Homo sapiens: one gene and its partner. The protein of the gene in region 1 binds, or shares a complex with, the protein of each later gene. Each region holds a gene or a part of one and is shown in the gene's direction. Other genes may lie near its edges. The genes, in order: LMOD2 and TPM1.

Region 1 (3,911 bases):
GATCTTCTTGGAACTGCAAATTATAGAGTTCCCGTCAATCTGATGAATGATAAACTCTGGGGATGGGGCCCAACAATTGGTGCTCTCACAGGTGATTATGACACACAGTAAAACTTAAGAACCGCTCAACTACAGTTACCTCCTGAATAACATGGGGGTCAGGTGAACCAACTCCTGCCCCTGCAGCATCCAAAATTCATGTATAACTTTTGACTCCCCCAAACCTTAACTACTAATAGCCTACTGTGGACAGAAGCCTTACCAATAACATAAACGGTCAATTAACACATACTTTGAATGTGATATGTACATACATAATAGGGAGGTGATCAGGAGAAACAACCGGCCACTCTTCTCATTACCTGATTTGTTTTCTAAGTTTACTAACATTCCCCTTCTCCTTGTCCAGTCCCTTGCCATCTCATCTCCCACCTCCTTATTCTATACCCTCCTTCCCACCTCCATTCTCCAAAGAATCAGGGTTAATGCCAAAGCAGTGGCATATAGGAAATCTGTAATAAAACAGGCCCCCTAGGGACAGAGTATTTTATAAAGTAAGCGAAGTCTGTTTTTTGCATCCTCTCACCTTGCCTCTGTAGACACCTTTTCCCCTTCTGTTCTTTCTCCAGATGTCCCCCACCTAGGGTGACTAATCATCTCAGATTGTCCGGAACTATCTAGATTTCATGACTAAAATCCTGGGAAACCCTTCACACTCAGGCAAACTGGGAGGGTTTATCACCTTTCTCCTGTGTGTAGTCCTGACTCTCAGCTGCTGTTAACCAATGTCAACTTAGAGCCATTCAGTAAGCAAATAATTATTGAGCTCCTACTACATGCTAAGCACTGTGCTAGGTGAGCAAAGCAGACATGGTCCACTGCTCTCAACAGCTAACAGTCTGCTGGGAAAAACAAGTGACCAAAATAAAGTGCGACAGGTACTTTATTGGGGGTGGGTACAATGGTATGGGAATGCGTCTGAGGGATATTTGGAGAGGATGTCAAAGAAGGCTTTCTGGGAGATCTATCATTTAGATGCTATATGACAATTCACAGTTTCAGATATTATCTGTCCAGGTACATTATAAGGGGAAAACAGATCTTGCAGATAGAGCCAGAGGGTCTTTAAAAAACCAAAGGGAGTAAAATGTAATGGTGTCATACAAGGCCGTATACCTTGGATTTTGAGACAGGCCCCTTTCCTCCAAATACTGAAACAGCTAAAAATACATACAAACACATGAACACACACAGCTTTACAGGGACTAGAATTATAAGGAATTTGGAGTGGAATGGGGTGAGGAGAAGTCAGCCCACAATTCTTTCCTTCCTCGGGTTAATCCATTTGTTTCACTGCTGGACAGGGAAGGCTTCCTCTCTTCCCTCACGTATGCCTGGAGACTTGGCTAGAGCCACACTCTTTTTCTTATGTTGTTGCATTGTGACTTGCAGCCAGCTGCCACCAAACATTTCTCTCTCTTTCTCTCTCTCTCTCTCTCTCCCTCTCTCTCTCTCTCTCACACACACACACACACACAGAGACACACAGAGTATCTCTCTCTCTCCCTCCCTGCTCCTGAAGAAGTGAATAAATTAAGACTGGAAAAGTCATCCCAGGAGTGGCTGACCCCTTCCCCAGGCCATCACTCGGTGCCTGCCACTCCAAACAGTGGATAACTGGAGGCTATTTTGTGATAGCAACTGGGCAAACGAACCTGGAGACAAGGGCAGTGTTTTCCAAAGCTAGATCTACATGCTTCAGGCAGCGGGCGCCCTCGAGGTCAAAAAAAAAAAAGTTGCCAATATAGAGAGAAGAATCAGGGCCTGGAGGACAGGGCAGGGTCCCAGGGCTGTAGAGAAGATAAAGAGAAAGGACTAAAAAGACAGCAGGAGAAAAAGATTAGACTCTGTCAGCAATTTCTAGACCTTTTTTTTTTTTAATCAGAAAAGATAGCAAGAAAAAGAGAAACAAGGGGTCACTTGAGCGTCTTTGTACAGCAAATCTTGTAAACAGGAAAGACAAAGATAGAATGAAATTGTGTTTGCCTGAAAGCCTTTCATAATTGATACATGCTAAATAATTTAAGACCTTCAGGCTGGGCAATGGCTTACTTCAAGATTTTCTGCTGTTCTCTGCTGTTCCATCCACTTTACTGATTAGAATCTAGTGGATGCCAAGGGTGATTATCTTTCCCACCTGGTCTTCTACAGTCTGTCTCATTTAACCCTGGACTAGTTGGAGGTTTCAAGTTGATTTTCCCAAAAGGGTGACCTGAATGTTTTCTCTGCATCGAACTGGATTTTGACCTCCTGCTGTCCTGAGCAGCAGCCCTGCCTTTAGGCTTCCCTTGCCCAGATAAGGGACAGCTACAGAGGCAGCTCTCAGGTGATTCAGAGAGTCTTCTGTGGTAGAGCCCTGTGCCGGGCTCTACCGTAGAAGCAGATAAATAAATGCTGGAGGAGCAAATGACAGCTCTGCTTCTGTCTACACTGAGGCAAGGCCTGGCAGAGAGTGGTTGGCTTCTGTCACATCTGCTATGGATGGAAAATTTGGGAATTTTTGAATTAAAAAGGGAAACTCATTAACATATTGTATATTTTTGTTGTCATTTGATTGCTTGAGATGGAGAAATAAGAAAGAACAGAGTGATTCCAGAAGGGAGGGTTGAATTTGCTACATTGTAAGTAAATGGAGAGTAAACCAGTAAGAGTCGGTCCTCAGGAGGTGAACAAATTTATCAAGGGTTTTCCAAAGCTGAAGTTCTGATTTATTTGTTCAAATTAGCAAAATGATTATATATTTTTATTCAATAAGTTGAATTCTGGATATTCTGCAGAAAACAAGAGAAATGTTTGTAGAAAAAGCTATTGCTATTTATTGCAATAAAATGTCAGCCTTGGTCATGAGAACTAGACAGAATGGAAGCAGAGGATTATTAACTTTTTTTATTATAAACTTATGTCACTTGCCATGTGCTACTTTTGCAAGTTAAAAAATGTACTTAAAAATGGTATCATTTTTAAGAAGCTTAATGATGATATCATACTCTTTAGGTTGCAGAAGACAAAGAGGAAAGTGAAGAAGAGCTTATCTTTACTGAAAGTAACAGTGAGGTTTCTGAGGAAGTGTATACAGAGGAGGAGGAGGAGGAGTCCCAGGAGGAAGAGGAGGAAGAAGACAGTGACGAAGAGGAAAGAACAATTGAAACTGCAAAAGGGATTAATGGAACTGTAAATTATGATAGTGTCAATTCTGACAACTCTAAGCCAAAGATATTTAAAAGTCAAATAGAGAACATAAATTTGACCAATGGCAGCAATGGGAGGAACACAGAGTCCCCAGCTGCCATTCACCCTTGTGGAAATCCTACAGTGATTGAGGACGCTTTGGACAAGATTAAAAGCAATGACCCTGACACCACAGAAGTCAATTTGAACAACATTGAGAACATCACAACACAGACCCTTACCCGCTTTGCTGAAGCCCTCAAGGACAACACTGTGGTGAAGACGTTCAGTCTGGCCAACACGCATGCCGACGACAGTGCAGCCATGGCCATTGCAGAGATGCTCAAAGTCAATGAGCACATCACCAACGTAAACGTCGAGTCCAACTTCATAACGGGAAAGGGGATCCTGGCCATCATGAGAGCTCTCCAGCACAACACGGTGCTCACGGAGCTGCGTTTCCATAACCAGAGGCACATCATGGGCAGCCAGGTGGAAATGGAGATTGTCAAGCTGCTGAAGGAGAACACGACGCTGCTGAGGCTGGGATACCATTTTGAACTCCCAGGACCAAGAATGAGCATGACGAGCATTTTGACAAGAAATATGGATAAACAGAGGCAAAAACGTTTGCAGGAGCAAAAACAGCAGGAGGGATACGATGGAGGACCCAATCTTAGGAC
Region 2 (3,911 bases), on another chromosome or scaffold:
ACATGCCTGGAACTTTGTCACTGTTCCGGTGGCTGGGTTGACACACCGTGATTAAAGGGCTCTGGTCAATTTCTGTGCCACGCAGCCCCTATGCTAATGGTCAGATCTAATGTTCTGACCATTAGGTCAGTGTATCTTTTCCCTCCTGGGCAGTTAGGTTAGTGGAAGAAACCCGATAAAATCTTGGAGAGGAATTTGATCATTCTCTGAAGGACTTACAAGTTGTTTGGCCTGCCTAATCTGCTCAGATACCGTCCGGGGAATATTTGGTAACCATGCAGTACAGACTGTGAATTATTCTGTGGGGACTATTAACAAGACCCTCACCAACCCTGCCTCAGCTGATCTCAGGGCTTGGGGGCAGCCCCCTCTCCTCCCCTCCCACTGAAGCTCTGAAAAAAAGCAGCCTTTCCCCCTTGGGAGATGGGAGGAGTAGTTAAAAATAAGAAGTGTTGGGGGAAATCCTCCTCCTTCCAAGCACAGCTCACACGGCAGAGCCTCCTCAGAGTTGCGGCTGCGGATGCAATGACTTAGCCAGGTTAACGCCGATCCCATGTTTTCCGAAACCTGGCACCTAAGCATCTAACATGGAAGGCCGACTCCCTAAAATCAGTGCAAGAAAAATGATAACAAGTTATATCTGGAGGGACCTCGGGGATTATCTACCCGCTGGATTTAAAGTTGAGGAAGCCGCGGGCAGCAAACAAGGTCTCACAGTTGCTGGTGGCAGAGTAGAGACCACAGACCAAATTGCCTGAGTCTAAACTCAATGTTCTTTCCCCTTAGACTGCCACCCGCACACACACGCACACATGCACACCTTTTTGGAGGCACTGCACAGCAAGCACAGAAGTACGCCACTGAGTCCTGTGTCCCTAAAGTATTTGACTGTCCCTCCGCTGGGGGAAAGGGCAGGCAGAAAACAAGACTCCGTGTGCTGTCGCTGTGCCGCCCCCTGCCTCTCTGACCCGCGCCCGCAGAGAAAGTCTCAAGAGCCGCCCCAGGCTTTCTCCCACGTTCTCCCTTTCTCTGCTGCAGTTGAGTTTCCAGAGCGTGAGCGCGCAGGATGACACCTGGCTGGCTGAGAGCTGCCGGGGAGGCGCTGGCGGGTGCCGAGAGCGCACTGACCCTGACGCGGGGTGCAGCACGGCTGGGAAGCCCCCGGGCCTTTGGCTAAGCGCGCCGGGGGACGGCACAGGGGGGCGACGCGCATCCACCACCTGGTCCGCGCTCTCCCGGCCTCCGGCAGCTCAGGGCGGGCTCGGTTGGGGACCCTAATGGCTGGGTGCCGGCCCTGGGAGAAGGGCACGCGGAGGGCGGAGGGTTGCGCCTCGGCCCCGGCTCGGCCCCAACGCCCTCTCCCTGGCGCGCAGGTTTAGAAACAGGGCGGCCTCTCCGGCCGCCGCCTCGGCGGCTCGGGTCCCCATATATAGTCATATCCACCGTCAACTGGGAGGCCGGCGGCCGGCAGCGAATGGGCGAGCGGCCCCCGCGGGAGGAGCGGGGAGGGGGCACGGGGCGGAGGGAGGAGAGGAGGAAGGGGGGCAGGAGAAAAAAGCTTTTCCAAAAAAGTATTGGCTGTCTTGAGGAATGCGGTCGCCCCCTTGGGAAAGTACATATCTGGGAGAAGCAGGCGGCTCCGCGCTCGCACTCCCGCTCCTCCGCCCGACCGCGCGCTCGCCCCGCCGCTCCTGCTGCAGCCCCAGGGCCCCTCGCCGCCGCCACCATGGACGCCATCAAGAAGAAGATGCAGATGCTGAAGCTCGACAAGGAGAACGCCTTGGATCGAGCTGAGCAGGCGGAGGCCGACAAGAAGGCGGCGGAAGACAGGAGCAAGCAGGTCTGCGCCTCCCCGGCCCTGCGCCCGCGCCCAGAGCGCCGGGACTCGAGCCTGGCACCCCCGGCTGGATCCCCACCCCGAGGACTCGGGGAGCCACCACCCTACCCCCACCACCACCCAGGGCGGCCAGGGCGCGCGTCTGGAAAGAAGGAAGGGAAACGCAAGAGCCAGGCTTAGTCTAACTTAGTCTGGTCTGAGGACGCTTATTTCCCTTCTCTGGTTCCCATGGCCCGCGAAATCAAGTCCTAGAGGCGCTTTATTCTCAGGACTGGGAATCAGTTTGGGGGAGGGAGGAGGACACCCGGTTCCTGGGGACGTTTGAAGGAAGGGCGAGGGATGGAGAAAGGGGGTCGAGTAACTCAAGTGTTAGAAGTTCGTTGACTTTTGACTGGGGAGAAAGGAACCTTAAACTTGGGGAGGAGAAGGGAGTCCTGGAGTTGTTACCTAAGAACAAAGATGGGGCGGAATGGAGGCTACAGCCCGAAAGCCAGGCCAGCAGTGGCGTTCTTCTGTGTCCCCAAGTAGTGGACTTGAGCCCGCTGAGACCTCGGCAGGAGTCTCGTCCCAGGGCAGGTGGGTGTGCGGGGTGAGCCGCGGAGCGGTTCCAGCTCGGGTAAAGAGGAAGTTACCTCGGGTCCTTTGCACTCCAACTCGGCGGCGCCCCGAGCCCGAGGGGCCCCAGCCAACCCGACGCCCGTGTGTTGTGTGTGTCTAACACCCGGTCCGTGCCGGCCGCCCGCGCCCGCCCGCCGCTGCCCCCAGCTCGAGGAGGACATCGCGGCCAAGGAGAAGTTGCTGCGGGTGTCGGAGGACGAGCGGGACCGGGTGCTGGAGGAGCTGCACAAGGCGGAGGACAGCCTCCTGGCCGCCGAAGAGGCCGCCGCCAAGGTACCCGGGGCGCGCGGCACGGCGTGGCGCACGAATGGCTAACTCTTTCTCTTTCTCTCTCTCCCTCCCTGTCTTTCCCTCTGTCTCTCCCGCTGTCCCTGTCCTTCTGGTTCTGTGCACCCACACCCCTCCCCTTCGGGATCACGCTGCCTGCTGCACCCCCCTCCCTCCCTGTACCCCCTGGCCAACTCCCAGCTGGAAGATGAGCTGGTGTCACTGCAAAAGAAACTCAAGGGCACCGAAGATGAACTGGACAAATACTCTGAGGCTCTCAAAGATGCCCAGGAGAAGCTGGAGCTGGCAGAGAAAAAGGCCACCGATGTAAGTGCACGCTCACACTGCTTCCCTCACCTCTTGCCTGCGTGGCCACTCCGGGGTCACCACAGGGCTGGAGAGCAATGAAGGAAGTTTACCTTTTCCTGCTGGACACCTGCACACAGCCCTGCCATGGCCCAGAGCATTGGATGCCGCCTCTGACTGCTACTGCACACATTCATTTATATTTCATCCACTCCTCTCTTCTTCTCCTTTCCTTTACCTCCCTGGGGGTGGAGGTGGGTGGATGAGAGGCTGGGAGAATAGAGCAGCTGAAATTGGACTCTGGAGGTGAACTTCACCTCCCTGGTGGCAGAAAACCCTTGAGGTGTCATCACCAAGGTTTGTGTAGAGAATGCCAGGTTTTCTTCACTTTCTTTCCTTTTGCCGTTTCCAGTGGGTGGGAAGTTCTGGGTTTGGTGGTGGGTCTAGTCAGGGTTCAGAGAACCTGGCCTCTAAATGAAAGAAATGACACAGCGGTACCTTTACTTAGATGGCTGCACTTCATGGTGGGGCACAGAGACACTTTGAGGCTTCCTTTCTCATTAGTGTAAGCCTTAATCCACCCCTTAAGATCTGCCTGGGAAGATGATACTTGCTTGGGTCTGCAGTCTGAAGGCACTAGATCCAGAAAGTAAGCTGTGAGTTATATATAGCTCAGTGCTTTATATGGTATAGTGAGCTAGCTGCCCCCTGCCCCTCCTGCTGGCCCCGCCCCCACCTGTCAGCCTTCTGACAACCACCACATAGTTGCAGGGGTGATGCACACAGCTAAGGCTCTCCTAAGCTCTTTGTCCACTGCCCTTTGGAAGCTTTTTAATTGATAGCTTGCCTCTTCTGCCTCGGAAAGTCAAGCCAAAGGACCAAC

What was found.
Region 2: the proteins of LMOD2 (region 1) and TPM1 are in contact, whole or in part, in an NMR structure (PDB 6UT2), measured with the Homo sapiens proteins. Residues at the interface, in NP_997046.1 of Homo sapiens: Lys12, Tyr13, Leu21, Leu22, Leu25, Glu29, Glu32, Leu33, Arg35, Glu36, Leu37, Asp39, Ile40, Glu41; in NP_001018005.1 of Homo sapiens: Met1 (codon at 1,727), Ile4 (codon at 1,736), Lys5 (codon at 1,739), Met8 (codon at 1,748), Gln9 (codon at 1,751), Met10 (codon at 1,754), Leu11 (codon at 1,757), Lys12 (codon at 1,760), Asp14 (codon at 1,766).

The regions. Positions count from the first base shown.
Region 1 is NC_000007.14:123,658,806-123,662,716, forward strand, and holds part of LMOD2 (leiomodin-2), read left to right. Parts: intron 1-3,054; coding exon 3,055-3,911. UniProt on the Homo sapiens protein: Mediates nucleation of actin filaments and thereby promotes actin polymerization. Plays a role in the regulation of actin filament length. Required for normal sarcomere organization in the heart, and for normal heart function.
Region 2 is NC_000015.10:63,041,104-63,045,014, forward strand, and holds the start of TPM1 (tropomyosin alpha-1 chain), read left to right. Parts: upstream 1-1,643; 5' UTR 1,644-1,726; coding exon 1,727-1,840; intron 1,841-2,602; coding exon of another isoform or gene 2,603-2,728; intron 2,729-2,890; exon of another isoform or gene 2,891-2,923; coding exon 2,924-3,049; intron 3,050-3,911. UniProt on the Homo sapiens protein: Binds to actin filaments in muscle and non-muscle cells. Plays a central role, in association with the troponin complex, in the calcium dependent regulation of vertebrate striated muscle contraction.